Homo sapiens: one gene and its partners. The protein of the gene in region 3 interacts with the protein of the main gene of each other region in a pairwise test. Each region holds a gene or a part of one and is shown on either strand. Other genes may lie near its edges.

Region 1 (7,027 bases), on a different chromosome or scaffold from region 3:
AAAAAGAAAAAGAGAAAAGAGAAAAGCAAGGTGGTTAGCCCTCCCTCCTGAAAAAAACCTTACAATGGTAGTGCTGGAAAAGGAAGTTGCCCTTGATTAAAAAGGTAACAAAATTCCCACATTGTACAAATCGGTTCCAGTATAGCAAGAGGTGAGGGCTAGGGCAGAGGAGCAAACTATGTACAAGGACCCATTGAAAACGCAGTAGTAGGACTTTGGCACTATGAACAATTCCCACCGGTCCTCTGGGAGGTGCGTCTGAGAGTCGCTGGACTTCCCGCACCCTCCAGGCACACGCGAGCTAAGTAGTTCCACTTGGAGTCACTGGCAAGGGTGGCCCATGGCTGGGGAGAGACCATCTCTTCTTTCTTCAAAGACGGAGCGTCCCGTTGATCAGCACAGCAGTTCTAACAGACTTCCCTAGAAGACACAAAACCACAGAGTCAAGATGTCAGGCAAATGACCATTGTTCCCTGGGGGGAAGGCATCATGGTTTGCTTCTTCCTGGCTCTCCTGGGTTGGGGTGGGGGCCTTCCAAAGTCATCCTGGGGCTTGGAAGAGAGACACATGCCCTTCATGTACGGGGCCTGTTGTAAAGAAACGAGTGTGTTTTCTGAGCACAGTCCGCCATAATAGGAAAAGCCTCCAGAATCAGGCCTTTGAAAACAGAGTGACTTTCTGGGCAAGTGAAGGTGGTGGCCTGTGATTCTTTTCATCCTTACAAGACCCTTTTATTATTCCTAGAAAGTCAACCAGTCCCAGTGGCTCCTAAAAGGCCCTGGAGTCAGACAAATCTGGATTTGGGTCCTAACTTCTCCCCTTAGTGGCTGCAGGGCTGTACCTATAGGACTTGATCACTCTAGGGCTTAGTTTTTGCTTCTGTATAACAGGGATGACACTAGCACCCACCTTAGAAAGTTGCTGCGATGATGCCATGCGTTGATGTACACAACAGTATTTGGACTAGTGCCTGGCACATGGTAAGTATTGTAGATACTTCTGCTGTTTTTATTAGATGGAGCCTTTTCCAAACGTGGTAGGATATAGAAGAGTGATAAGATGAGGCATTGTAAATGTGTTTTTATTTAATGTTTATATGAATTCTAAGAGGTGTAAATATTATTATTATTCTTATTTTACAGTTGAGGAAACTGAACATATAGGGGCCTAATAAGTTTCCCAAGATCACACAGCTAGTAAGTGGCAGAGCCAAGATTCAAACCCAGGTAATCTCTAGAGTCCGTGCACTTAATAAACAGAATTATTAAGAATCAGTAGGAAGAAATGTTTAATTCTTATACCCTTGGAAGTAATGAAAATAGTCCAAGGACCTTATTATAGGTGGAATGGTGTCCCCCCAAAAGTATATATTGAAGTCCTGATTCTCAGTACTTCAGAATGTTACCCTATTAGAAATGCCTTTAGAGAGGTAACACAGTTAAATCAAGTGAGAATGAGGCCATCAGGGTGGACTCTAATCCAACATGACTAGTGTCCTTACAGAAGGGGGAAATTTGGACACAGAGACAGATGTGCATAGAGGGAAGATGTGAAGACTCACACACAGGGAAGAGACCATGCGATGATTGAGGCAGATATTGGGCTGATGCATCCACAAGCTAAGGAATGCAAAAGACTGTCGGCAGACACCAGAAGCTGGGAGATGGGCACAGAACAGACTCCTGCACAGCCTTCAGAAGGAAGCAACCATCACAGACTCCCTGATTTTTGTCTTCTGGCCTGCAGAACTGTGAAACAATAAACTTCTATTGTTTTGAGCCATCCAGTTTGCAATACTTTGTGGTAGGTAGAGGAAATGGGGGCAGGTCTCCATCATTACTTTTGTCTCCTCCCAAGATCTAGAGATCCTGGGAAAGGGATCCAAGCAAGGCTCAGGTCTCTAGAGGACACAGCCAGTATTCCATGACAGGCTAGAAGTTTTTCAGATCTGTAGGTTCTCGGAGCCACTGGCCTTTTCTTTGCCTCCCTCCTGGTAAGGCTGTTTGGCTGAGAAAGCCCTGAGAAGGAATTTTTTTTTTTTTTTTTTTTTGTACAGGGGCCAACAGCAAGGAGAGTGGACTTCTCAGCCAGAGGCATCAGCTGATCATCGATAATGCCATTCATGCCTAACATCTGGATGTTAAACGCACCCACATTCCCTAGATGCTCCTGGGAGTAAGATTGAATATTGGAGTTAAGAAACCAATTTATAAAAGAAAAGTCTGCAGATAAAACCAGATTCCAGGGGTGACCTTAGAATCTGGACTACCTAAAAGTCATCCAGCCAGAGTCACCAAGTTGTAAACACTGCAGGGATCCTTATAGGTGATGTTGTCAAGATCACTCATTTCACCAGGAAAAAAAAAAAAAAAAGGAAGCTCAGGAGGAAAAGTGCTTTCTCTTAGGCCAGGACCTGCTCAGTGGCATGGTCAAAAACAAGAATGATCATGACTCTCCCTCCAACAGTGAGAGTAGCTAGTTTCTCACACCAGGCCCCATGCTAAGTGGTAATACGGCTCATCTCATCTACTCCTTACAGTGACTGGCAGGTGATTGGCAGACCCACTTCATAGCGAAGAAATGGAGGCTTAGAGAGATTAAATGTTGTGCTTAACATTAGGTAACCAGTGAGTGGTGAAGCCCGACTCCACCTTGGCCAGTCCAACTTCAGAGCCTCCTGATTCTTAATTGCTCCTCCCTGTACCTATTTTGGGTCCAGGTCATGCACAGCCTCTCCATGCACAGAGCTAGGTAGCAATTGAAGAGAGCATGGTGGCTTCAAAGGTAGGGGGCTGGGGCACCCAGTGAGGACCACGAGCCTTATTGCTGATCCCAGGCAGAGCCACATGCACTCCCTGGGTTGGCACAGTAGCCCACGGCCAGCCTCTGCCGGTGCTTTCCAAGAAACAGGGTTTTCCCCAGCAAATGGGGACTTCCACCACCTTTGGGAGGGAGGCTGCCACTGATTGGATGTCCCCCTGAACACTTCCAGATCCTAGGAGACAAGGCCCAAGGCGGGAAGACAGCTACCGATGTTCTTTCTCCCAACCCGGCTAAAGAACGTTGGGTCAGCACAGGACTGCAGGATGGGGTGGAAAGAGCTGTGGAGTTGGAGAAAGCTGGGATCCAGGATCTGCCACTTCCTGGCTACGTGCTGAGGTTGGTTACTTAACCTCCCAGAGTCTCACTTCCATTGCACAGAGCCCACGGGCTGCTGGCAGGGTTACAGACAGGGTGCAAAGCAAGCAGGCTGACCCCCCCATCCGCTCCCTGTGGAGTCTGGCCCATGCAGCATACTCAACAGGCATTTGTCAATGAATGGAAAATGGAAAGTGAGCATAGTGCTGTCAGAGGAGTGGCTGTGACCCAAGGGTGGTGACAAAGTCCACATTTCAGGATTGCTGTTCTATAGAGCATTGCAGTGCTTTGGGCTGTGTGGCTCTTGCTAACTCCCCTGGGCTTCTCTCAGAGTCCTATTACCTGGTCAGAGACAGTCACCCAGCAAAGGGCCAGTGCCTCATCCTAGAGTACCTCTCAGAGCCCTGGAGGATGCTGCAAGGCCATCGGACAGGCATTTCCTTATGGCCTCTGGGACATTTCTACCACGTGATGTCCAGGCTCTCGGTGAACACGTCCCAGGACAGGAACCCACTGCCTCCCACCCTCCCTTTCTGTCTTGGGGAAAACCTGGAATGTTAAGAAGTACTAATTCTTTAGCAAAATCTGCTTCTCTGTTACTTTCCTCATTGGAGAAACAAAAACATTAGAATTGTTTTCCCATGTGACAGCTTTCTGTTTCTGTCTCTCTTTAATTTTCCCAGGAGAACTTTCTCTAGGGCCCTAGGGACTTGGGAGTGAGTAACACTGCACTCCAGGAGAAAGGAAAACAAACACTGAGAGAGTGATTGATTATCTCTCCATAACATTTTTTTTGAGAGGTGTAGCAAGGTTTATTGCTCATTTGCCGAGTGCCTGTTATCTGCTAAACATTTTGTTCCATTGTCATCTGGCTTCTATTTTTGATACGGACAAACCTGTCAGTTTAACTGTAGTTTCTCTGTAGGCAACGTCTTTTCTTTCTGGTTGCATTTTTTCCCTCTTTGCCCTAGCTTTATTGACGTATAACTCGTTTGCAGAAAGCCGCACATAATGGATGTAATTTAGTGAGTTTGGGCATATGCATACACTCATGTTACTGTCACTACAATCCAGTAACAAACATAAAGTTTGCTTGTGTCTATTTTTGGGGGGGGCAGTGGGGAGGTAAGGATATAACATGAGATCTGCCCTCTGAACACATTTTGAAGTAAATATCTTCCTATTAACTACAGGCACTATGTTGTACAACATACCTCCAGAAGTTACTCATCTGTATAACTGCAACTTTACACCCATTGTATGAAAATTCCCCACATCCCCCTGCCCCATCCCCTGGTCAACATCACTCCACTGTCTATTTCTGTACTGCTCCATAATATTTCTCTCTCTCTCTTTTTTTTTTGAGACAGAGTCTTGCTCTGTCACCCAGGCTGGAGTGCAGTGGCATGATCTTGGCTCACTGCAATCCCCACCTCCTGGGCTCAAGCAATTCTCATGCCTCAGCCTCCCGAATGGCTGGAACTACAGGTGTGTGCCACCACACCCGGCTCTAATTTTTGTATTTTTAGTACAGGTGGGATTTCACTATGTTCGCCAGGCTGGTCTCGAACTCTTGGCCTCAAGTGATCCACCTGGCTTTGCCTCCCAAAATGCTGAGATTACATGCGTGAGCCACTGTGTCTGGTCTGCTTCATAATATTTCTTTTTCTTTTTTTTTTTTTCCAAGATGGAGTCTTGCTCTTGCTGCCCAGGCTGGAGTTCACTGGTGCAATCTCAGCTCACTGCAACCTCTGCCTCCCAGGTTCAAGTGATTCTCCTGCCTCAGCCTCCCAAGTAGCTGGGATTATAGGCGCTCACTACCATGCCTGGCTAATTTTTGTATTTTTAGTAGAGATGAGGTTTCACCATGTTGGCCAGGCTGGTCTTGAACTTGTGACCTCAGGTAACCCACCCGCCTTGGCCTCCCAAAGTGCTGCGATTACAGGCATGAGCCACCGTGCCTGGCCTGCCTCATAATATTTGAGTTCAAACTTTCATTTCTTTTATTGAGGGTAGGGGGCACAGTCTGATTTTTAACTAGAATTTAAAAAGGGGAAATGTGTTGGACTGGAGGAAGATTAAGCAACTTCCCAGTGGATGACAAAAACTCCGTGCCATCCCAAATTGTCTGTACACCAGGCTTGAGTCAGTTTTGGCCACATCCCGCCAAAGCTCTCCTTCCCTGCGTGGTTTGAAGGGCCTCTAGGGTTGGGGAACTTGCTGAGACCCACAGGCCAGGTATATATTCCTCAAGCTGCTTGCAGGGAGGCTCAGAGACAGTAGGAATGCCTTTCCTGCTCCTGGCCTATCAGTGCATATTGGCCAGGGGAATTTAATAGAACCAGAGCAAATGGAATTGTATTTTAAACTCACTGGGCAGATTCCCCAAAGTGCTTACATGTGTGGGTGTAGGGGTGGATTTGAATTCCAGCTCCACCACTTTTTACCTCAAAGACTTGCACGAGCTACCTTTCTGCACCGCCTTCTCATCAGCCCTAAATAAAGAAACTAACATGAAGCCCTGCCCAAGGAGAGTCTGAGCTCAGACTCGCCTAACCCTGCCCCCACCTGATGGTTTGTCTCTACCTGCCCTGGTAGCTGAAGAAAAAAGACATAATCTTTTGGAAGTTCTGTGGTCCTGTCCATTGCCTAAGAAACCCGAGTACTCATCCTGGCCAATGTAGGGCAGAATTATATCCCCTTCTACTACTGCAGCTGGCGCTTTCCTGAAAGCACCACCTCCCGGCTGGAGGCCAACCAACTCAAGCCATTACAGCAACTCATAACAGAACAACCTTGCTTCAAAGGAGCAAACAACAGCTAATGCCACTGCCTGCAACATCCTGGCTAACCAGAGGTCCTGAGTCTGTCCATGTGGCAATTTTACTGCTGGTGTAACCAGCATTTGAGAAAACCACTGCACTAAACAAAACTACAACCAAGGACTCCCAGAGTCCACTTCACTCCCATGCCACCTCCACTGGAGCAGGTGCTGGTATCCAAGACTGGGAGACCTGAAGATGGATCATATCACAGGACTCTTTACAGACATTCCCCAGCACCAGCCTGGAGCCCAGCAGCCCCACTGGGTGGCTAGACCCAGAAGGGCAATAATTACCACTGCAGTCTGGCTCTCAGGAAGCCCCATCCCTAGAGAAAGGGGGAGAGCAACACATCAAGGGATCACCCCATGGGACAAAAGAACCTGAACAGCAGCCCTTGAGTTCCAGATGTTTCCACTGAAACAGTCTACCTAAATGAGAAGGAAACAGAAAAGTAATTCTGGTAATATGATAAAACAAGGTTCTAAAACACTCCCATAAGATCACACTGGCTCTCTAGCAACGGACTCAAACCAAGATGAAATCTGAATTGCCAGAAAAAGAATTCAGAAGGTTCATTATTCAGCTACTCAAGGAGGCACCAGGAAAAGGTGAAAACCAATTTAAAGACATTGAAACAACAATACAGGATATGGATGAAGTCTCTAGAGAAACAGATATCATAAAGAAAAGACAGTCACAACTTCTGGAAATGAAAGACACATTTAGAGAAATGCAAAATACACTGGAAAGTTTTAACAACAGGATCAAACAAGTAGAAGAAATAGCTTTAGAGCTTGAAGACAAGGCTTTTGAATTAACCCAACTTGACAGAGACAAAAACTAATTAAAAAAAATGAACAAAGCCTCCAAGAAATTTGGGATTACGTGAAATGACCAAACATGAGAATAATGGTGCTTCTGAGGAAGAAGAGAAATCTTAAAGTCTAGAAAATTTATTTGAGGGAATAATCAAGGAAAACTTCCCTGGTCTTGCTAGAGATCTAGATATCCAAATACAAAAAGCTCAAAGAACACCCAGGAAATTGATCACAAAAAGATCATCA
Region 2 (7,027 bases), on a different chromosome or scaffold from region 3:
CCCGGCACTTTGGGAGGTGGATCACCTGACGTCGGGAGTTCGAGACCAGCCGGGCCAACATGACGAAACCCTGTCTCTACTAAAAATACAAAATGAGCCGAGCATGGTGGCACATGCCTGTATTCCCAGCTATTCGGGAGGCTGAGGCAGGAGAATCGCCTGAACCTGGGAGGCAGAGGCTGCAGTGAGCCGAGATTGGGCCATTGCACTGCAGTCTGGGCAACAAGGGTGAGACTCCGTCTCAAAAGAAAAAAAAAAATCTACATAGTTTTTTCTACATGCTTAGAGCAGCATTAAATGCTTCCAAAACAATTAAGAAAATAACTTTGCCTAATATTTTCTTGAGCTTTATAGTAATATAAGGGTTAATGTTTTACCTTTATTCAAAATTCAAGAAACAAATGGCTCCCTGATCTTACCAGTCTCACAGTAGGGTTCACCATCCTCCAAGTGAAAAACATTGTTCCGAATGGGCTTTCCACAGGCTACACACACAAAACAGGAAACATGCCAAGTTTGTTTCAACGCACTGATGACTTCCTGTTACAGAAAGGTAATTGGATGTAAAAAAAGAAGATGACAATAAATACATAAATGTTTATTCTAATATCTGTACCAGTAAATCCCTGTAGAGCTAATCCAAAGTAGGCACACATACTTCATTTTTGTCTTGAGCTTTCCCTCAAAGTAACAAGAGATACTTAAGAACAGACTCACAAATCATCTAAACGGATGCATATTTAGACGTGTGTTCTTTACAAATGCCAATCAATAAACTTAAAGAATGATCACTATGTTATTTATACATTATATGTACAGTGAATAAAGTAAGCATTTCATAAATGCTTGCTACAAAACTTTCTGCTTCTTCTCAAAGGGTGTCAGGAAACATTAACTTACCAAGGTTTTATGGTATTATCTGCAAAAGTTCTGGGGGAAGGAGGAAGCATTTAAAAATTAAAACAAACCTATACTTTGGTGCATTTTAGAAGCAATAATATAATATATATAATTTAATAACAAAACATAATGGGGCCGGGCGCAGTGGCTCACACCTGTAATCCCAGCACTTTGGGAGGCCGAGGCGGGCGGATCACGAGTTCAGGAGATCGAGACCATCCTGGCTAACACGGTGAAACCCCGTCTCTACTGAAAATACAAAAAATTAGCTGGGCGTGGTGGTGGGTGCCTGTAGTCCCAGCTACTTGGGAGGCTGAGGCAGGAGAATGGCATAAACTCGTGAGGTGGAACTTGCAATGAGCCGATATCGCGCCACTGCACTCCAGCCTGGGTGACACAGCAAGACTCCGTCTCAAAAAAATAAATAAATAAATAAAAATAATAAAATATACATAATTATATATAGTTGTATATATTACATGTATATAATGTATATAAATGTATATAATGTAATAAAATATAATAAAAATATAATGTAATCCAATCAGTTTAACACGTGTTTAGGCTTTTGGAAATCAGCTAAGATGGCACTAAGCACAGACTCGAATGTGTAAAATTTGGACCATATTCTAGTCAGCAATGGCCCAATGGTTAAACATACCAAGTTATAAAGATTTGGGCCAGATATTAGTTAGTAAAAGAGGTTTTGGGTGTTGGTTTTACAAGAAATCATTTCTTTGGATTGAGAGAAAGATGGAGCCATTAAAATAATTTTGGATGAGTAGTGAATACTCTTTCTATAATATTTATCACAAAAAATCATATACATAAAGCATGATTACAATTTTGTAAACACATTACTTATAAAGAGCAAACTAGAAAAAAACACATCATAAGGTTAACAGTAATTATCTGTGATTGGTAAATATTTAGGTCATTTAAATTTATTCTTTAAATTTTTTGTGTTTTCTAATTGTGCTTGAGTGAACTATTTTCTTTTATAAAAAATATCAAAATAAAATGAAATAATATAGACTTATTAGCCATAGAAATTGTCACAGTTCACTACTGAAGGACAATGGGAAGAAACAGACATTTAGATCCAAAAAATTCACCATGAACATTTGTAGAAGATGTATATTGAATCAAACTATCTCCCAAGGCTTCCAGAATATTCTTCCCTTTCCATCCTTGAGAGAAATCTTTAACAGGTAATCAAATAACTAAAATACAATCTAGACAAGCTATTGAAGTTCTGGCCCATCTCCAAGGCAATGAGTATGAGATTTCCATTTCCCAGAACTTTATTTGGGTCTAAGACTCTAACTTCACTTTGTTTTGTTATTCTAACATTTATAGAATACCTTGATACACTAAAACAGTATTAATGAATATTCTATTAATTATTTGTTATCATTTGGGAAGGTACAGTCTGAACCATTCCACTTCTTTGTTCCCAACATATTACACAAATCAATAATCTAGAAATATTTCAGGTGACATATATATAATTTTAAGTGTCTTCAACGTTTCAGACATATTTAAGGATATCCTAAGAGATATCTTAAGACTACTCAATAATTCATACTACCTATTCTCTCAATTAACAATAATTAGAGTTTCATTATCATATTTTCACATTGAGAGTATATTAGAGTTCAGCAGGGCCATGTCCAATTTTTGTGTGAAGCCAGGTACTCTGGCTTCTTCTGAAATCAGATTCCAGCTCCTAGTCACCATAAAGTATGCCTGACCCTTACTTTATCATTGGAAACTAGGTATTCCAGAGCAAGAAATTCATGTATTCATTATTTATTATGTACTGTATCTGATTCCTAAATTACTCCTTTTTTTGCAAAAAAGGAAAAAAAATTATTTTTCCATCACATGTGCACTCTCATAAAACTGAGGTTATATTTTTAAACACTGTATGTATTCAAGAAAAATATATCATTTATAAACCTCATGTTTTATATATTTCATGAAATCAGTGTCCTGTGCTTGAACTCTGACAAGTAGGGAAATACTGCTCTTATAAAAGCTATGGAATTTAATTTAAAACAGTGAAGGTGTCAGTTCTAAGAACTCAGATGTGTGTGGTCCTATGCGACCTCTTCATTCCTGAGCAAACAGGCTCCTGTTGAGGAAGCACACCCACAGTAAATTATTTTTTCCCCACAGTGGCTAGACTTTCACCAGACAAGCCAGCACTCAGTGAGACAAAACCAAAGACAACCTAACCCCATGAGTCCGATATATTTCCACAGAGGTCTATTTAGTTTTGCTTTACAATAATAAATAGTGCCGAAAGCAGAGAGGGCATAAAGCAAGAAGAAAATAAAAAGTTAAAGTGATAGAAGACTTTCATATCAAAAAATTATTCTACTTTAAAACTCATTCAGAATAAAAACGTTTCCAATACTTACTCCAAGGATCTTCCTTTGGCATCGACCACATTCAGGGGCAAAGAATTTCTCATAGCACAGCTCACAATACAGGGCTCCTTTCTCCTCTACAAATCCAATGTAGGCCATTGTATTTTTGCAGTGAGCGCAGTTGAATTCTTCTGGGTGCCAAGATTTCCCCAGTGCCACTAAGAATGGTCCTCTGACAGAAGAAAAAGAGGCCAACTAAGTTTGAGAATAAAATTTCTAGAGTTAGCCTGGATATGGACCTCTTTTATGCAATGTCCAACCAATTAAATACTTGCTCAATTTTCCTTCTTAAGGACTGAACTCATGGGTGTTGGGTGTTGTAAATTCACAGAGGGACTCTGCATTGATGTGAAAAGAAAACGGGAGACGTGCACTTAAGGGATTCCTTCAAGAAAGGGCACTCCCCACCCTTTTTCTGCCTAAGGGAATTTGGTGATGTTTTATTGAGCTGAAATGAGGCAATCTGTCTGCATCATGGGTAGGATTGAGAATGAGGATGTTAACTGTGACTGTGACAGAACATGAGGCAACCAGAAAAAAATATATGGTTTAGGCAGAGATGAGACTTTGACACTTCTACAAAAGAAACAAACAAAAACTTCAATTTGGTAAGTCATAGTGCTAAAAATAGTAATAACTATTACCTGAGACAATTTCTCTTCCCCACAATTTCTCTTCCCCACACATTCTTTCATGTATTTATTTCTCAACTTTACTAAACACATCAAGTCCTCACCCTCCAAAATGACTACAGGAACTGTAAACTAGGTATTATCAATTGTCTGAAACTACTCAGAAAGGTTTCATTTCACTCAAATATGACTGATTTATTTCAAAAATTTAATTTTATTGTGGTAAGAACCCTTAAAATGAGATCCACTCTCTTAACAGATTTTTAAGAGTACAATGTAGTATTGTTAATTATGGGCACAATGTTGTACAGCAGATCTCTAGAACTTATTCATCTTGTATAACTGAAATTTTATACCCACTGTGCACCAACTTCCCTCTCCCCCCTCCCCAACATGACCGATTTTTAACACACATTTGTATCAAGGTAACAAATGTTTGTAAGAGATTTTTTTCCCCATTAAATACTTTATGGTCATGAACTGATAAGATGGGCTTGGTTTGCTTGGCAGGAATCCATTATGAAGCCTTATCTAGTCATGAAGCCTGCAGAGACTAACCATTCTAGCCTCTGCAACATACTTTTCAGTAGCTATATCACACTAATTTATATTCATAGAGCAGCTTTACCTCCAAGGCACTTTTACACTTATCTAATTTGTCCATGCAACATTCCTGTGAGACAGACCAGGACAGTTATTATGAATTCAGTTTAACAGATGGAGAAGCCAAGGTACAGAATGTTCAAAAGATATGACAAATATCATAAAATCACTGACCCAGCCAAGGCCAGAAGTTGAATTTCCTGATTTCTAGTATGCCGCTCTAGTCAACTGATATTCTGCCTTTGACCTCATTAACATCACTTATCATCCCTAAGCGACCACATGGTAATTGTTGGTAAGCATCAGACACCAGACTTCCAGGCAGATTATTAACAGGAGAAGTCATAGCAATGAGTATCGCAAAGTCACAGCATTTTTAAAATTCTGACAATAACATAAACCTTGCTATTCAATAACTATCTCCCACTGTAAATTCTTTGTCACCATATTGATGTTTACTCAGAATCAGCACCTAATTCTGCAAGAGTCACAAAAGGAGAAAGGCTCTTGATGAGTGATTAAAAATTTTTACGTGGGGTGTAAGAGGGTATTTTCTAGCCCTACTTTTTGTTAACTTGTTTCTTATTAATAACATGATGCCATTTTGTATAAGCTAGTACATATCATTCTCTTAAGTTTGAGATAGGCAGTTTATTATTATTATTTTTAAAACTTTAGGGTACCATAATTTTGTTATGACTAATAAGGAATGCCTTTGTTTACTAATTCCTGCCAGAAAAGAAAGGCTACAGATCACCTATTCTGTAATCGAATATATTACTTTTGGTAAGTGGTCCATCATTTTCAACTGACTTATAAAATAACAATCCTATTCAACGAGTTCCTTCATCTAATTTTCTCAGTGTATGTTTGGCAAGTAGTTTATCAGCAAAGATAAACCAGGAATCACACTGCTCAAAGCCAGACAAAGTTTGATGAGTGCCCTGTGTTTTTCCGCCAGGTGGGCAACTGGTTATACACGCATGAAAAATCTTCCAGGCTCAATTTACTGTGACCATAACACAGAGCATGGTAGAGCTTTGGGGTTTCATGCTACTCTCTGGCTGCACATTAAAACAGATTCAAAGCCATTTACTAGGGTGAGTTTTTTACTAGGGCACATCTTTAGCTCATCCATAAGGCTGGAGGACTCTTGAGGCTAGTATTCTTATTTGGCTTCTCAGTTTTCAAAGAAGTCAATCCAACTTCAAACTGCATTCTGTTAAAGCATAAGTGTTGGTATGTACCTGGAACAAAATGAAAAGCTCTGCTCCTGGAACATGTCTATCAATGCTATCAAATATTTGACAAAGTTCATCTGAGAAGAAAAAAAGACATTTAAGAATAACTGACCAAGGAAAATACATTCCATTTGCCAGATTTTCTAAAATATGTATTGAGTTCAAGTCAGATCATCAGAAAACTGGGTTCTGTGAATCACAGCATATTGGGCCTGCTGCACCCCGCAGGATTATTCCTTTTATGAACGGTGCTTGTTGTGATACATGAACCTGTACTGGTAGTTGTTACAGGACACAGCTCTATGAAATTCACCCTTGCTCTTCCTGCAAGTTGTTGCTGGAGTGTTGTTAGATCTCATCCAGCGTCACTTTCACATGGTCTCATTCAGAAAAATTCCTCCCTGATTTCTGCAGCAAGAACTATTATGCTTTTCCTCAGCAGTAGTCTTATTTTTATCTTATTGTAAATTGCAAAACTACCTTTCATTTTTGGTAGACTACTAGAAGGCCTAAAGCCAGATTTACAGTCTAACCAGAGGCAAGTGGGCAGGTCATTATTTTAGTATCGTCCAGTCTCGACGTTAGCTTCATTTTTAACGAGCCTATCGATGAATTTCATTCTTTTTCCCCTTTTGTAATTTATAAGATTATCTTATATTTCACATACCTGTAAAAGTCTTTTTACAAACTTGCTGGAATATAGTTCACTATAAATACATAAATTAAAACTACAGTCCATTAAAAGGATGACTTTAAAATATTTCATTAGTTCCTTTCAAATAGCAAAAGGAATTTTAGACAGTAAAGAAATTCCCACTGCACCTTTAAAAAACAAGCTGAAAATGACCCTTGCTCCTCTCAGATCTCCTTTCTTAAACAAGCATGCTCAGGGCAACTACTGGCCTAACTTGATACTTCTTGGCTGTCCTGAAAGAGCATCTTTCTCCATCAATGCCCTTGAAATTATGCACAGATTAAACAATAAAATTAATCTTTCACATATAGCAAAGTGTTTTCTTCTCTGTGTCAGCAAAGACTAATTTAACAAATTCATTAACACAGGATTAACACTAAAGAAGTTCTTCTTGTTCCAGGTAGGATTGGGTTTCCATTTGTGAACAGGAATGACAGGCCTAGATAACTGCAGAGTGGAATTAAGTATTCAGCTATCTCTTCTAGTATTCGATGTCCTGTGAGCCCTTACTAAGTACATGTT
Region 3 (6,956 bases):
TTCAATCTTTGAACATTTTATGCCATGTCTAAGTCTGTTTTTGTTCACTGATTTTTCTAATGATTATGGGCCATATTTCCTAGTTCTCTCCACACATCTAGTAACTTCTGATTTTCTGTTAGACGTTAGGGATGTTATGTTGTGTATTTAGGTTTTGCTGTCTTCATTAGTAAAGTGTTGAATGCTTTGCTCTCTCAGGTAGTGTTATCGGTTGAATTATTTCCCCCAAATTCATATATGAAGCCTTAAATTCCATTACCTAAGAATGTGACTACATTTGGAGACAGTGTCTTAAAAGGGGTAATCAGGTTAAAATGAGGCTCTTAGGGTGGGCCCTGGTTCAATTTGACTGGTGTCCTTATAAGAAAAGAGTCGCCAGAGATGTGCGTGCACAGAGGAAAGACCATGTGAGATATGGGGAAAAAAAGCCATCTGCAAGCAGAAAGAGGCCTCAGTAGAAACCAGATGTGCTGACACCCTATCTTGGACTTCTGGGCACCAGAATTGTGAGAAAGTACACTTCTGTTGGTTAAGCTACACAATGTGTAGTATTTTGTTACAGCAACCTGAGTGAACTAATACAAGCAGTTAATTTACTTGCAGGTTAACTTGATTCCTGCAAGACTTGTTTTAAAGTTTTGTTCGAATGGATTTTGAGTAGCTTTCCTCTAGAAAGATCAGCCTTCTTTTTACGGCATGGCCTTTATTGAATGCTTGAAGTGGTCAACACCTCTGGCTGCTCTGAGCTCAAATGCTTTCCAGCCCCACGAACCCTACACTAGTTGTTCAGTTTAGCCTCCCCAGTGATTGTTCTGTCCCCAGGGGCTACTTAGCCTGGCCTTGTGGGCACGAACAGCATAGTATTTGATGAAAAGCTCAAAGGACACACTTTTATATTTCTGGAGCTTCCTTCTCTTACCTTGATAACCCGCCTGCCTCAGAAGCTTCCAATTCTGACCTCTGTCTCCTCAGCCCGATGGGACTTCAGTGCTATTTGGGTTCCCCTCCCTGTGCTGTAGTCTGGAGAGCGTCTCCAGGAAACCAAGGCAGCCATGGGACTCCCCCTATTGTTTCCCTTCTCTCAGGGATCGCTGTCTGGCACTGCCTGCTGCTCAGCATCTGCAGACTGTTACTTATGTAGTTTTAGAGTTACTCATGGTGGGAGGCTAGCCTGGTACCAGTGACTCCATAGTCAAAAGCGGAAGTCCACATGGGTGATAGCTGAGGTGGTTCCCATTTGTTGACTTTCTATGTGAACTGATGGAAAGTATCATCCCCAAAGTGTGCAAAATGGAAGTGAGCAGGGGTGGAGAAGGATAAACAGAAAGAGGAGGGCGCCAGCCCTGAGTGCCTGGATGGCGCTGAGATCATGCGTTGAGAGTGGCAACAATTCAAGGTAGGTGTCGGCCATGCTAGGCAGATGGCATAGGCACAGAGACAGTGGGAAACAGCAGTGAGGAAGACGGTGGGTGAAGTGAGCACTGTGGAAATCAGGCTGGAGAAGCAGGAAGGAAGGATAGACAGGAGGGGGCTCACAGGGGAATAGGGGATTGGAGGGCTTTAGGATTCAGACAAAGGGAGAATGTTAGGAGCTTAGGACATCCTGGGCAGAAAGGACATTTGCATACCCTCTTTCAGAGGTGGAGCTCAAGTTCTGAGTGTGGTCATGGGAGGGTGGCAGAAGTGGCAGAAGTGGAGTGGAGATGGAAGTTCCTAGAGATGAGGAAAAATAAAATCTGAGCGACTGTGAATTTTGATGAAACATCGACCGCCATGTTGAAGATGGCTGGGATGTGGCCAAGTCTTAGCATGACAAGGAACACAGTGAACTCAGTGCTGAAATTCTTAACGAAAGGGACAGGCTGCACAAAGGTCGGCAGATGACAGCAGGGCAGGGACTCCGGACATGGCGCCCTTCCCAGCCTGCATCTCCAAGGAGGATGGTTTTTGCATGAGGGTGAAGACTTGGGGCTCAAAGTCAATGTCCAGCCCCCAGTCTGAGCCCATGTGATGGGGACGTGGCCACCAAGTACAGTTGTGGAGGTTGTGAACAGCTCCACTTTCAACTAGCGATGCCACTCTATTGCAGACGTCCCATCTCGTGTAATGGTTTCCCAACTCTGTGGGCACTCAGTGTCCCTGCGTGGGGGCCTGAGCAGGATTCCAGGGAAGCATGCCTATGACAACACAGGCTTCCGCCAGGGCCAGGAGAGTGAGAGAGGCTGAGAAGTGGTCTCTTTTGCATGGGTCAGGTGGTCGCAGCAGGAATCCTGAAGGGGCTGCAGTGAGCGGTGGGAAGTCGAGTTGATGGGGAGGAAGCAGAGAGGAGAGGTGGGTGGGAATATGAGAGAAAACAATGACTCAGTCACTTATATCATGATGGTGACTAAAGTGACAGGGATGTAGAACAAGGAAACTGACCTTGCCAGAGTTTTCATGGATCGAGTCCCTGTGGTTGCCCAGTGGTGAACAGTCAGCAGAGAGCCTGGAGGTACTTGACCCGGACCCAGAGGAGCCCTGGAGGATGGAGCCTGGAGGACGGGGGCCTGGAGAATGAGGGTCTGGAGGACGAGGGTCTGGAGGAACAGGGGCCTGGAGGACGAGGGTCTGGAGGAAGAGGGCCTGGAGGACAGGGGCCTGAAAGATGGGGGCCTGGAGGATGAGGGTCTGGAGGATGAGGGTCTGGAGGAGCAGGGGCCTGGAGGATGAGGGCCTGGAGGACAAGAGCCTGGAGGACAGGGGCCTGAAAGATGGGGGCCTGGAGGATGGGGCCTGGAGGATGGGGGCCTGGAGGACGGGGGCCTGGAGGATGATGGCCTGAAGGATGAAACCTGGAGGATGGAGCCTGGAGGATGGAGCCTGGAGGATGAGGGCCTAGAGGATGGGGGCCTGGAGGACAGGGGCCTAGAGGATGGAGCCCTGGAGAATGGGGGCCTGGAGGATGGAGCCTGGGGGACGAGGGCCTGGAGGATGGGGGCCTGGAGTATGGGGCCTGCTCTCCAGACCCTGAGGACAGCCCCGTGGTGGACCAAGGATTTTGGGTTTCCTGCGTCTCTGGGCCCCTGACTGCTCAACCATCAGAAACAGACTGGCAACCCCCTGTCATTTCCCTGGCGTGGGGAACTTCGGGTCCCCTCTGTCCTTCCCACCACACTTTTCCCTCTTTCTTTCCGGGTGTCTACTCTCTGGCTTCTGTCTTCTCTGTCAGGTCCACAGAATCCTTCTCCAGCACATCCTACCCCAGGAAGGCCATGGGCTGGGTCCCAGGTGCCATCTTTCAGAAGATGTAGAGCATTCCCATGGAACAAAAATAACCCATTTCAGGGGTTGGCTGAAAATGAACTTATTAAAACCTGCCTGTCACAGGCTACTCCGCTGACCCTGTCAGCCTCATCTCCATGGAGAGCAGCCCCTCCTGCTGAAGATGGGACAAAGGGCATCGTGCTGCGGTTGGGGAGGCTCTAACCACAGCCCTGGGAGCAGTCTCTTACCTCCTCTGAGATGCTTCCCTTCCTCAGGGAGGGGACTTTTCCATGCTATCTGCTGGCCTGTACATTTTCCCCAGTAAACTTGGCCCTAATATTTTCTAAATTCCTGTGGTCCCTGCCCACTCTATCAATAGAAATGCATAGCTTATCCCTTCCTGGGTGTGACCCTGTGTGTGCCCAGCCCCAGACCTGCACGTGGCCGGTTTTCCACGCTGGCAGCCTGGCATGACCCAACTCTCTGTCCAGGGCAGGAAGAGGTATCACCGAGCAGGGAGAGAGTCACCCTGGCCCGGAAGCCTCGCCTGCACAGGGCACAGCTGCCTCTTGCCTCCTCTTCGCCTCCACGGTGGAAGGGCTGGGGCCACGGGGCAGAGAAGAAAGGTTATCTCTGCTTGTTGGACAAACAGAGGGGAGATTATAAAACATACCCGGCAGTGGACACCATGCATTCTGCAAGCCACCCTGGGGTGCAGCTGAGCTAGACATGGGACGGCGAGACGCCCAGCTCCTGGCAGCGCTCCTCGTCCTGGGGCTATGTGCCCTGGCGGGGAGTGAGAAACCCTGTAAGTGAAGGAGAGGGTCTTTTTATGTGCTTTCTTTATTTCTCTTAAAGAAAAAAAAAAAGCACAACCATAAATTAACTTGAGAGGGGGAATGGCTATAAAGGCATCTGGCAATGTGTGTTGTTCACATGGGATTTGCCACTGCTCAGGAGGGTGGCTCCAAGAAGGGCCTCCCTCCTAGGGAAAGGCTGAGTGACGGCAGGTGTCAGCGGGCCCCGTGTCGGGCCAGGAGGGCATTCCCACCAAGGGTCCTTGGAGTCCCAGAGCACTCACCTCTCGCCTGGATCTTGGCCTTGGGTCCATCTGTTCACCCTCCTCTAGGAGGGTTTTGTTTTTGTTTTTTTCCGAGACAGGATCTGGCTTTGCCGCCCAGGCAGGAGTGCAGTGGTGTGATCTTGGCTCACTGCAACCTCTGCCTCCCAGGCTCAAGTGATCCTCCCACCTCAGCCGCCTGAGTAGCTGAAACCACAGTTGTGGACCATCATGCCCGGCCAATTTTTTTTTTTGTATTGTTTGTAGAGATGGGGTTTCGACATGTTGCCCAGGATGGTCTTGAACTCCTGAGCTCAAGCAATCTGCCCGCCTCGGCTTCCTAAAGTGCTGGGATTATAGGTATGAGCCACCATGCCTGGCTTTTTTTTTTTTTTCCTTTTAAACTAATATAACAATTTCAGCAAAGCCCTATCGGCTTCTCAGGAGGAAACCGCATTGCTTAAATATGGGCAAGATAAGACTTTGTGTTTCTCTATGTGGCAACAAGACAGTAGAGGCATCCCCTAGAACCTCTGAGAGAAGGAGCAGTGTGGTCTGGGGTACCAGGGTGGGGCCGACTGAGGGTCTTTCCACAGCCCCCTGCCAGTGCTCCAGGCTGAGCCCCCATAACAGGACGAACTGCGGCTTCCCTGGAATCACCAGTGACCAGTGTTTTGACAATGGATGCTGTTTCGACTCCAGTGTCACTGGGGTCCCCTGGTGTTTCCACCCCCTCCCAAAGCAAGGTAATCTTCCAGGGAATCTTCCTGGGCCAGCAGCTGGCAACCCAGGACCCAGCTTCACAGGCGGAGCCCAGAGCAGGGGCCGGAGGAGGCCCAGTTGCTAGTCTAGGGTTAGCCTGGGTGGGTTAGTCTCGAGCTAGCCCCGGTTGGTTAGTCTGGGGCTAGCCCAGGTTGGTTAGTCTAGAGCTAGCCCAGGTTGGTTAGTCTGGGGCTAGCCCAGGTTGGTTAGTCTGGGGCTAGCCCAGGTTGGTTAGTCTAGGGCTAGTGTAGGCTAGTTAGTCTAAGGCTAGCCCAGGTTGGTTAGTTTGGAGCTAGCGCAGGTTGGTTAGTCTGGGGCTAGTAGCCCAGGTTGGTTAGCCTGGAGCTAGCCCAGGTTGGTTAGTCTAGGGCTAGCGTAGGCTGGTTAGTCTGGGGCTAGCCCAGGTTGGTTAGTCTGGAGCTAGCCCAGGTTGGTTAGTCTGGGGCTAGTAGCCCAGGTTGGTTAGTCTGGGGCTAGCCCAGGTTGGTTAGTCTAGGGCTAGTGTAGGCTAGTTAGTCTAGGGCTAGCCCAGGTTAGTTAGTTTGGAGCTAGCACAGGTTGATTAGTCTGGGGCTAGTAGCCTAGGTTGGTTAGTCTGGAGCTAGCCCAAGTTGGTTAGTCTAGGGCTAGCATAGGCTGGTTAGTCTGGGGCTAGTAGCCTAGGTTTGTTAGTCTGGAGCTAGCCCAGGTTGGTTAGTCTAGGGCTAGCGTAGGCTGGTTAGTCTAGGGCTAGCCCAGGTTGGTTAATCGGAGCTAGCCCAGGTTGGTTAGTCTGGAGCTAGCCCAGGTTGGTTAGTCTGAGGCTAGTAGCCCAGGTTGGTTAGTCTGGGGCTAGCCCAGGTTTGTTAGTCTGGAGCTAGCCCAGGTTGTTTAGTCTGGAGCTAGCCCAGGTTGGTTAGTCTGGGACTAGCCTGGACTGCTAGTCTAGAGGTAGCCTAGAGGACTGCTAGTCTAGAGGTAGTCTAGGGCTAGCCCAGGTTGGTTAGTCTGGGGCTAGCCCATGTTGGTTAGTCTTAGACTAGCCTGGACTGCTAGTCTAGAGGTAGCCCAGGTTGTTTAGTCTGGTACTAGCCTGGACTGTTAGTCTAGAGGTAGCCCAGGTTGGTTAGGTTGGTTAGTCTGGGACTAGTCTGGACTGTTAGTCTAGAGGTAGCCCAGGTTGGTTAGTCTGGGACTAGCCTGGACTGTTAGTCTAGAGGTAGCCCAGATTGGTTAGTCTGGGACTAGTCTGGACTGCTAGTCTAGAGGTAGCCCAGGTTGGTTAGCCTGGGGCCAGCCTGGACTGTTAGTCTAGAGGTAACCCAGGTCAGCCAACAGTGAGATGAAAATTTCCCACCTACCCTGTTTCTACACTGTTAGTTCTTTCAACAGACATGTGTGTGTGGAGCCATCAGTTTTACTTTAGTTGAGAAAAAAATATATATATATATAGTAGGTCTCCTCTAGTTTTTGAAGTGTGACTTCTGAAGAAGCTTCCATGGGGAAATGAAGGTATTTAATAGGACAGCAGTAACATAAGGGCTGACAGCCCTCAAATGTTAGGGAAGGAAGTGAAGCCTTCTAGGGTTCTTTGGGAGTGAGTTTTATGTTAGTGCACGGGATCAGGACCCAAGTTGTAACGCCGACGAGTGCTCAAAGGAAGGTTGTGTGTGTGTCGTGCACCTGTGTGCGTGGAACCAGGCACGTCCTCTGGAGAAGGAGGATTCATCCCCAAGATTGTTGCTGGGAGGCTTGCTGGGCCCCGCAGGGAAACCAGGCAGATGGTGGATTGTTCACGAGCGCCCACTGAATGGCAGTGTCTTTGGGAATCAATACCATGTCCAAACGCTTTCCATCTTACCAAGGTGCCCACAAACCTTTTCTCATCTTGGCCCGGGGGACCACCCCATTT
Region 4 (7,027 bases), on a different chromosome or scaffold from region 3:
AAAGATGTATGATTTGTCTAATATTTTCATCTTATAAAATGATAAAATGTATCATTTCGTAACAGTTTCATAACAAAACATGACTTTTGTGCTCTGTTCATGCATCTTTCTTTTTAATAGTAAGGGGAGCTCTACTAAGCAATCAGAAATTGCATCATTTGTGTCATAGCCCTCAAGTCATTTATCATATTTTTATCTTTTATATTAAAAAGGTTGCAAAATCCACATGTCAGGGGTGTTGTTTTACTTTAAAAACAAAAGATAACATGTTTAAAACATGTTAAAAAGATGTTTAAAAACATCACGACAGAGACGTAAGAGCAGCCTTTTGTTCTTCACCTTTTTCAACTTATTAAAAACACTATAAATTTCACATATGCTTATCACACTCATTTTGGAAAAGAAATTGAAAAATCTCATCCATCTGATTATCAGTGTTCAGAAACATAAGAACCACCTTCCTAATATCATAGTGAACATTTAAGCAACATAATTAAAATATAATGGCCGTTTGCTATGGATCAATGACAATCAGTTTGTACTTAGCTTTTTAACTTGATTTCAGTAAGTTGTCTCTGTGAATCTCAATCTGTAGCTTGAGGAAATATGATTATGAGCCAAGTCCAGGGGCTGGCTCTAGAACTCACTTGCAGATCTTGGAGAGAATGAGCCCTAACGATTAACGGAATAGCTCAAAGTCCCATGTATGAAAAAGTCAAAAGTGAACTTAGAAATGGCCCAGTGTTACCCCCTTTTTCTCTGCCTTTTACCTTATTTTGCCAATGGAAACCAGAAGTCTAGGGCTGACTTATCCAATGTCACATGACTAGGTGAGAGTTCAGACTCCTGGTCTCATTCTTCACACTGCCTTTAAGTATCTTTTACTCATTTCAAATATTCCATTTTATATTTTTGGTTATAAGCTTTGTAAAGCAATTTGGTATACACTATCAATCAAATTTAATTAACATGAAAAGTCCACAGAGTCTGTCTACCTTCGTATATTTTTAGTGTTTAACTTCATATGTATGTCTAACTTCATGTATTTTTAGTGTTTGAAAACAACTCCTGCAGGAAGCATTAACCCTTCTATCCCAAGAACGTGCTCTTTAAATTAGGTTTTGGTTTACTCTAAAAATTTAGTCAAATCTTAAAAAATACTAAGGAGATTTTCACCTAATATTCAAAATGTACTATAATTAAGGCTTTATCTTTATAACAAGAAGGACAATCATATACCATGTCCTTTCCTTGTTAAGGAACGGAACATAAGATCTCATCACGCTTGGTATTATATCAGTGAAAATGTTTATACACTGACAATGTGAACATTACCATTTATTTTATCATATATAAGCAAAATGATTATATTAACATAAGGAAAACACATTTTAAGATTTTTTCCCCTCTCCCAAACACATATTGTATCTCACTGTTGAAATGCTAACTTAAATACACTCAGGGTACTAAAAGATAAAAGTTAACATGACACTGGCTATCCCAGATACATATACTTTTAGAAGATTTTCCAAAGATCCTGTCCAGATCAGAGTACATTAAAGTCCAGTTAAAATATATACTGCCCCCAAAATAGTTTATGATTTAAAAAGAAAATTTTAAACTAAGTTTCATATTGCTGATGTAATAACAGAGAGAAAATCTAGATATGTAAAATTGCAGCAGTGAATTATTTACAAGCAGTAATCTTATTATTTTCTCCTATCTTGAGACACGATCCGTTAAATATAAATCATCTACATAAAACTGCTTACCTGTTATTTTGTCTCTTACAAGCTTACAGGACTCTATTTCACCAATGCTCCCAAAGAGACTCTTTAGTTCCTCCTGTGTCATGTTCTGAGGAAGGTAGTTGACTATTAAGTTGGTCTTGCTGTCTTCTGTGTTCCCAGAGTCAACTGGTGACGAACAGTTGTTGTTTATGGTGGTTGGACCATTGGCTGTGTTATTGCAAGTTGGCCCATTAGACAGTTGTGTTTCCATGGCAGCAATTACCTGCTAAAAACAGAGAAAACAAGAAATGTCAGAATTCATATTTCACAACCTATTAGAGACTCCATCCAAGAATTTAAACACTTGTCACTAAACACAAGTCGTTCTAATGAAATTACAACAATGCTTCAACAAAAAGTGTAATACCTACACTAATTTTCACTTCATATTAACCTATTCATCTTAAGGTTACAACTATATTTTCACATACATATTCCATACATGCATATAAGCACAATTTAAATCTTAAACATTTTCTAGAATCACATTCTGGGTCTATTCACATATCCTTACTCACCTGCAGTGTCCACAGATGAGAAAATCAAGTACCAAAGGGCACAGAATTGAACCCTAACTAAAAATCATACTAGAAAATAAAAGTGCTTAACATGCTACAAAAATGAACAAAAAAATGACCTACCTAACTCTGAAGAGATTTTCAGTTATCCTAAGAGGTTCAATATTCTAAAACTGACAGATAGCCATTAACTTAAAAATCAAAGAGCAAGAGTACTTTTAAAAATATAAATTTGTCAACATGTACTGTTTTGGTTACATATTGAAAACGTTTTTGATGGACAATATCTTATCTCTACCATTGGTAAGAAAAAAACAGATGCTATATTTTAGGGAGTGGAAAGGAACTAACTGTAAGGTAACTTGGGAATGAGCTATGAATACTTTGTCTAACTGGTAGAATCTAATAGGACACTCCTGTCAACCTTGGCAGCTAAAAATTACCAACAAGGTGACTGATCTACAACATCAAAATAAAATCCCCAAACACTTCGATATGGTGTTTCTCCTTGACTCTGCTTTTTAATGAGAAAAAAGAAAACCTATCCAGTCAATGAAAACAACAATGTAAATATATCAACTTTTGCAAACAGACCAGCCCAAGGAATTCTCGTCTGAGCACATAAGCCTGTTGAAAATGCAAGTAATAGGGTATCTATAAACTCCAAACACCAGATAAAGAACAGAATTGGGGAAAATGGCCTCAAACTGTTCAGGCTACTCTACAAATCACTTATTAAGCAGTATTAAATCTAGTTTCCTAAAACCAATCCTATGCAAAAGAGTCACAAACCACAGCCCCAAATTTTCCAAAATCATTTTCCACTAACTACCTATCTTTGGACAGCCAAGACTGTGGTGGAATCTAAAAATCAACGCATCACTGAAAGGATTATCCTTCATATTGCATACATCTCTCACCTCCACAAAGAACTGCTTCTCAAAACTGACAATTCTGAATTGACGGGATGCTAGTTTTAGGGAAGCTTTAACATAGAAAAGGCAAAGAACTTGAGGCAAAGAAAAAAAGCAAAGTAAAGGGAAAGAGGGTTACAAGGAAAGAGAAAAAACTGTCTTTTAAAACACATATTGCCTAAGAAAAATAAAAGGGCACATTAGCAGATAAACATATAGGAAGAAATCTCTACTGCCAGGAGATGTTTACAAAAGAAGGCAGTGTTGGACATATTGAGACTGGTCAGACTGAACAAGAATCAGTGCTGTCATGATAAAAAAACATGAGGCAAAATCCAGAATAGCTTTTGAAATATCCAACAACCTGTAACCCCTCTGTGACTTCATTTCCTTGTCAAAGAAGTGGGAATTTATTCTACAAGCTGCAAGCTGTTTCTCTACGTAAGCTAAGTTTTCTCAGGGAATACTTAAAGGGATGAAGGAAAATAAACCTTTGGAAATCTGTATTTAAAAATCTTAAATAATTCAAGATATGGGTTTTATTATAATTAGCAAATCTATTTGAATTTGAAAAGGGAAGTTTCAGATTTCCTAATTAAACATAACTGTTCTGGTTTGTAGAATATTAGCTGTGGGTCACTCTTTTCACAGCAAAAATTCTTCTGGGGTTAACCCTTGCCCAGCAGTTATGGAAACAATGAGCTACAAGATTAAAGTGGCCAAAGACACTTAAATCACTACTGAAAAGTTTGGATGGGTGTAGAAACTACAAGAGACCCGAATGGGAGATTCGGACTAAAGCTCATTGGGATAGCATTTGAAATACAAAGTGTTCATTGACTGAAATCAGCAAGATTTAGAAAGGACAACAAACACTCCTCACTTAATTGCACATTTATTTCCATGTTCAGGTGGCAAGAATGAGCTCCTAAGCCAACATTCAAGTGAACAGCTGCAGTAGGCTGTGTGCGCTGAAAATTACAGCATCTCTCTGCTATAGGACCATCTGCTCAGAATAAAATGATACTAATGTGCTATATTTTACAAATAATGCATATTCCATTGATAGGCTCAACACAACTGTTCACAGAATGCAAACTCTTTCAACAGTTACTGGGCAAATAATTTTCAGCCAGATTTACAATTTCAACTTTTTTTTTGGAGCATAAAGAATTGTAAATAACTTCAAAATTTAGTAACCAAAAAAATACATAGTAAACAGAATGTATAGAATTACGGTAACTTAGTATTCAGACCATACCAAAACTTTTTTTGTTTTTTTAAAAAAGCTTGTCACTCTTTTGAGTCTGCGCTAAATCCTAATTTAGATTGTAAAAAAATTACATACGAGAGCATGGTTCTGATGCTACATACACCACTACAGTTAAAATTGCAATGTGCTTTAAGTCCTAATGATGGCCATACCACAATAGGTTAAATGTAAGAATAATTAGTATGCCAAATGAAAGATTCAAGTGTTTGGTATGGCCTCAGCACTCCTCCAACATGCTAAAAAAAAGTAGCCTACAGAATTTAAGAAAAATCCCACAGACCCCGGTCCAAGGCTCTGCTGCCCACGAACCACTTCTAAGCAGAGAAGCCACATCACACAGTCTGACTGCCATGTTAGTTTGGAGTTGCCGTCTGCAATATGGACACAAAAAGTACCGTATGTTAGATGAGCAAGATAATGCAACAAATCAGTTTGTACAAAATTTACAGTGATTGTATTGATATTCCCAGCACGTCCATGCAGTGTGGCTTAATTGAAATTGAGGCAATTCCAATCTAATCTTTCCAAATTCATTTCAACATGTAGTTTTCTTGCACAAATATAAGCATTTTTAATTAAGAGCCTGATTTTAAAACAGTATTAACTAGTTATCTTGGCATCTATTCTGAAGAACTAATGTAAACCACACCTCAAAAATTTAAAAAATAAAGTAAAATAAAGCAAAATACTGCAGGCTGTCTTATCTCTTAAGGATGTGGGAGAAGGGAGGAAATGTGAATGAAATTTTATAGTGGGAAAAAGTCATCATGCAATTCCTAAGTGATTGGTTTGCATAAAAGCACTCTTTCCCCAAAATATCAGAAAGACATTAAGAGAAGCTATATTTGCCCACACTGTTACATTATACTATAAATGATCCTTAATCCTGGGACTTAAAATTAAAAGTGAATCGAAACCCTGTGAGGTTATTTTGCCACTACAGTCAAACGGTTTCTAACAGTTTCAATGAGAATTGCTCACATATACTAAGAGGCAGTAAACCAGCATCTTTCAATTGAAATAATTGGACCGATAAATAGGATTGTTTGGAGTAATGCTCGCATAGGATGTCAGCTTTGTCCCTGAACGAAATCAAGTGAACATTTTTTAATATGTAAATTGTAAACCCAGCACGATTTGAAATTAGTGCTGCTATGAGGCCTCCAATATAGTTAATGGGCCATTTACCACTTATTGAAACTTGCCCAAATACCAAACAGAGCCATGATATTGGCACAAAAGCCAAAGTTTACTTTTTTTGCCATATATGCAGATGCTTCAAATGGTCAATATAATCAGAAAACTTAGTTTCTAAAAATAGACAGTGAATAACAGAAGAGGTCCAAAAATGTCTTTTACTTATTGATAATTATAAAAATTTTATCCTGAGAGGCAATCCTGGCTGTGATTTACTCTTGATATTAGCAATGCCGCCAGTAACGATGGATTCCACTTTCTGGCATCTATCAAAAAGGATTAACATACTTTTTTACAGGAAGCCATGAAAATATTTTACTCTTCTTCCGTTCTCCCACTGTAACAAGAGATTTTGGTCTGACCCTATGTTATTTTTCAAAAAACTACTTATAGTTTAACTGAACCTGTGAAAAAGTGCTTTACACCCATGAAAGATTTTTCATAAGAACCCAACTGTAGTTAAGACTACATGAGCAGGACCACACCCAGCAGGGTAAAGCAGGCATAAATGTATGTCCTGAATACCTTCAGGAGTTCAATCTAAACATTGCTCACTACATAAAACAGATTTTAATTTAACTGCCTCAGTCCCTTCTATTTCATAGGAGGTGGACACTAATGAGCTAATCTATTGACACCCCTCTTTCTGAAAGCCCCAGGGAGGTGAACAATCACTTTATTGCACCAACTAGATAGGAAGGCTGTGTATGGAAAATGATTCTACTGCACTTTTACATTTCAAGCACCCCAGACAGTCTTCTCCGCTTGAGGCAGACACATACCTTTATGGGAAGTTATAAATAAGTTGCTCACATGGCCCTTACCTTTATGCTGGCCAACAATTCAGTTACTAAAAATGTAAAGCTACTTCCCCTTCACTTAAGGACAGGCAATTCTGCTCTACTCAATCTACCACAGACAACTGGGCTGTGTACTATTTATAGATTCCACTGGCTCTGAAACTCTTCGGAAAGAAAAAAAAGGCCATATTCCAGTGAAACAGAGCCATTAATTTTAAGGCTTAAAAAAATAATGTTTCAATATATATTCTCCTCTTAATTTAGACATCACTTGTGCCAATTCAGACTGCTTTTCCTCCTGTTATTATCCAAGTAATAATTTACGAAAAGGCACTTTAGCATAGATGAATCTAGAATATTCTAAACTTTCACTGGGCTCCAAGGTAAAATGGCTGTTACTATGGTGAAAGCGTAGGTTTTATTGGGAAATAGAAGATTGTCTCTACTTTTATACACACAGGTACTTCCAAAAAGCCATAAAGACTTCTAAACTTTTTATTTAAATAATCCTTTATGAATTTTAACATCTACTGTT

What was found.
Region 1: the proteins of TFF2 (region 3) and ZHX2 interact in binary tests that used the Homo sapiens proteins (3 or more experiments, as listed by UniProt).
Region 2: the proteins of TFF2 (region 3) and PDLIM5 interact in binary tests that used the Homo sapiens proteins (3 or more experiments, as listed by UniProt).
Region 4: the proteins of TFF2 (region 3) and ELAVL2 interact in binary tests that used the Homo sapiens proteins (3 or more experiments, as listed by UniProt).

Annotation. Positions count from the first base shown.
Region 1 is NC_000008.11:122,966,635-122,973,661, reverse strand, and holds part of ZHX2 (zinc fingers and homeoboxes protein 2), read right to left. Parts: intron 421-7,027; coding exon of another isoform or gene 394-420; 3' UTR 1-393. UniProt on the Homo sapiens protein: Acts as a transcriptional repressor. Represses the promoter activity of the CDC25C gene stimulated by NFYA.
Region 2 is NC_000004.12:94,650,940-94,657,966, reverse strand, and holds part of PDLIM5 (PDZ and LIM domain protein 5), read right to left. Parts: intron 3,508-7,027; coding exon 3,327-3,507; intron 541-3,326; coding exon 420-540; intron 1-419. UniProt on the Homo sapiens protein: May play an important role in the heart development by scaffolding PKC to the Z-disk region. May play a role in the regulation of cardiomyocyte expansion. Isoforms lacking the LIM domains may negatively modulate the scaffolding activity of isoform 1.
Region 3 is NC_000021.9:42,347,974-42,354,929, reverse strand, and holds the start of TFF2 (trefoil factor 2 precursor), read left to right. Parts: upstream 1-3,935; 5' UTR 3,936-3,972; coding exon 3,973-4,051; intron 4,052-4,899; coding exon 4,900-5,049; intron 5,050-6,956. UniProt on the Homo sapiens protein: Inhibits gastrointestinal motility and gastric acid secretion. Could function as a structural component of gastric mucus, possibly by stabilizing glycoproteins in the mucus gel through interactions with carbohydrate side chains.
Region 4 is NC_000009.12:23,760,234-23,767,260, forward strand, and holds part of ELAVL2 (ELAV-like protein 2), read right to left. Parts: intron 4,867-7,027; coding exon of another isoform or gene 4,776-4,866; intron 2,017-4,775; coding exon of another isoform or gene 2,002-2,016; coding exon 1,773-2,001; intron 1-1,772.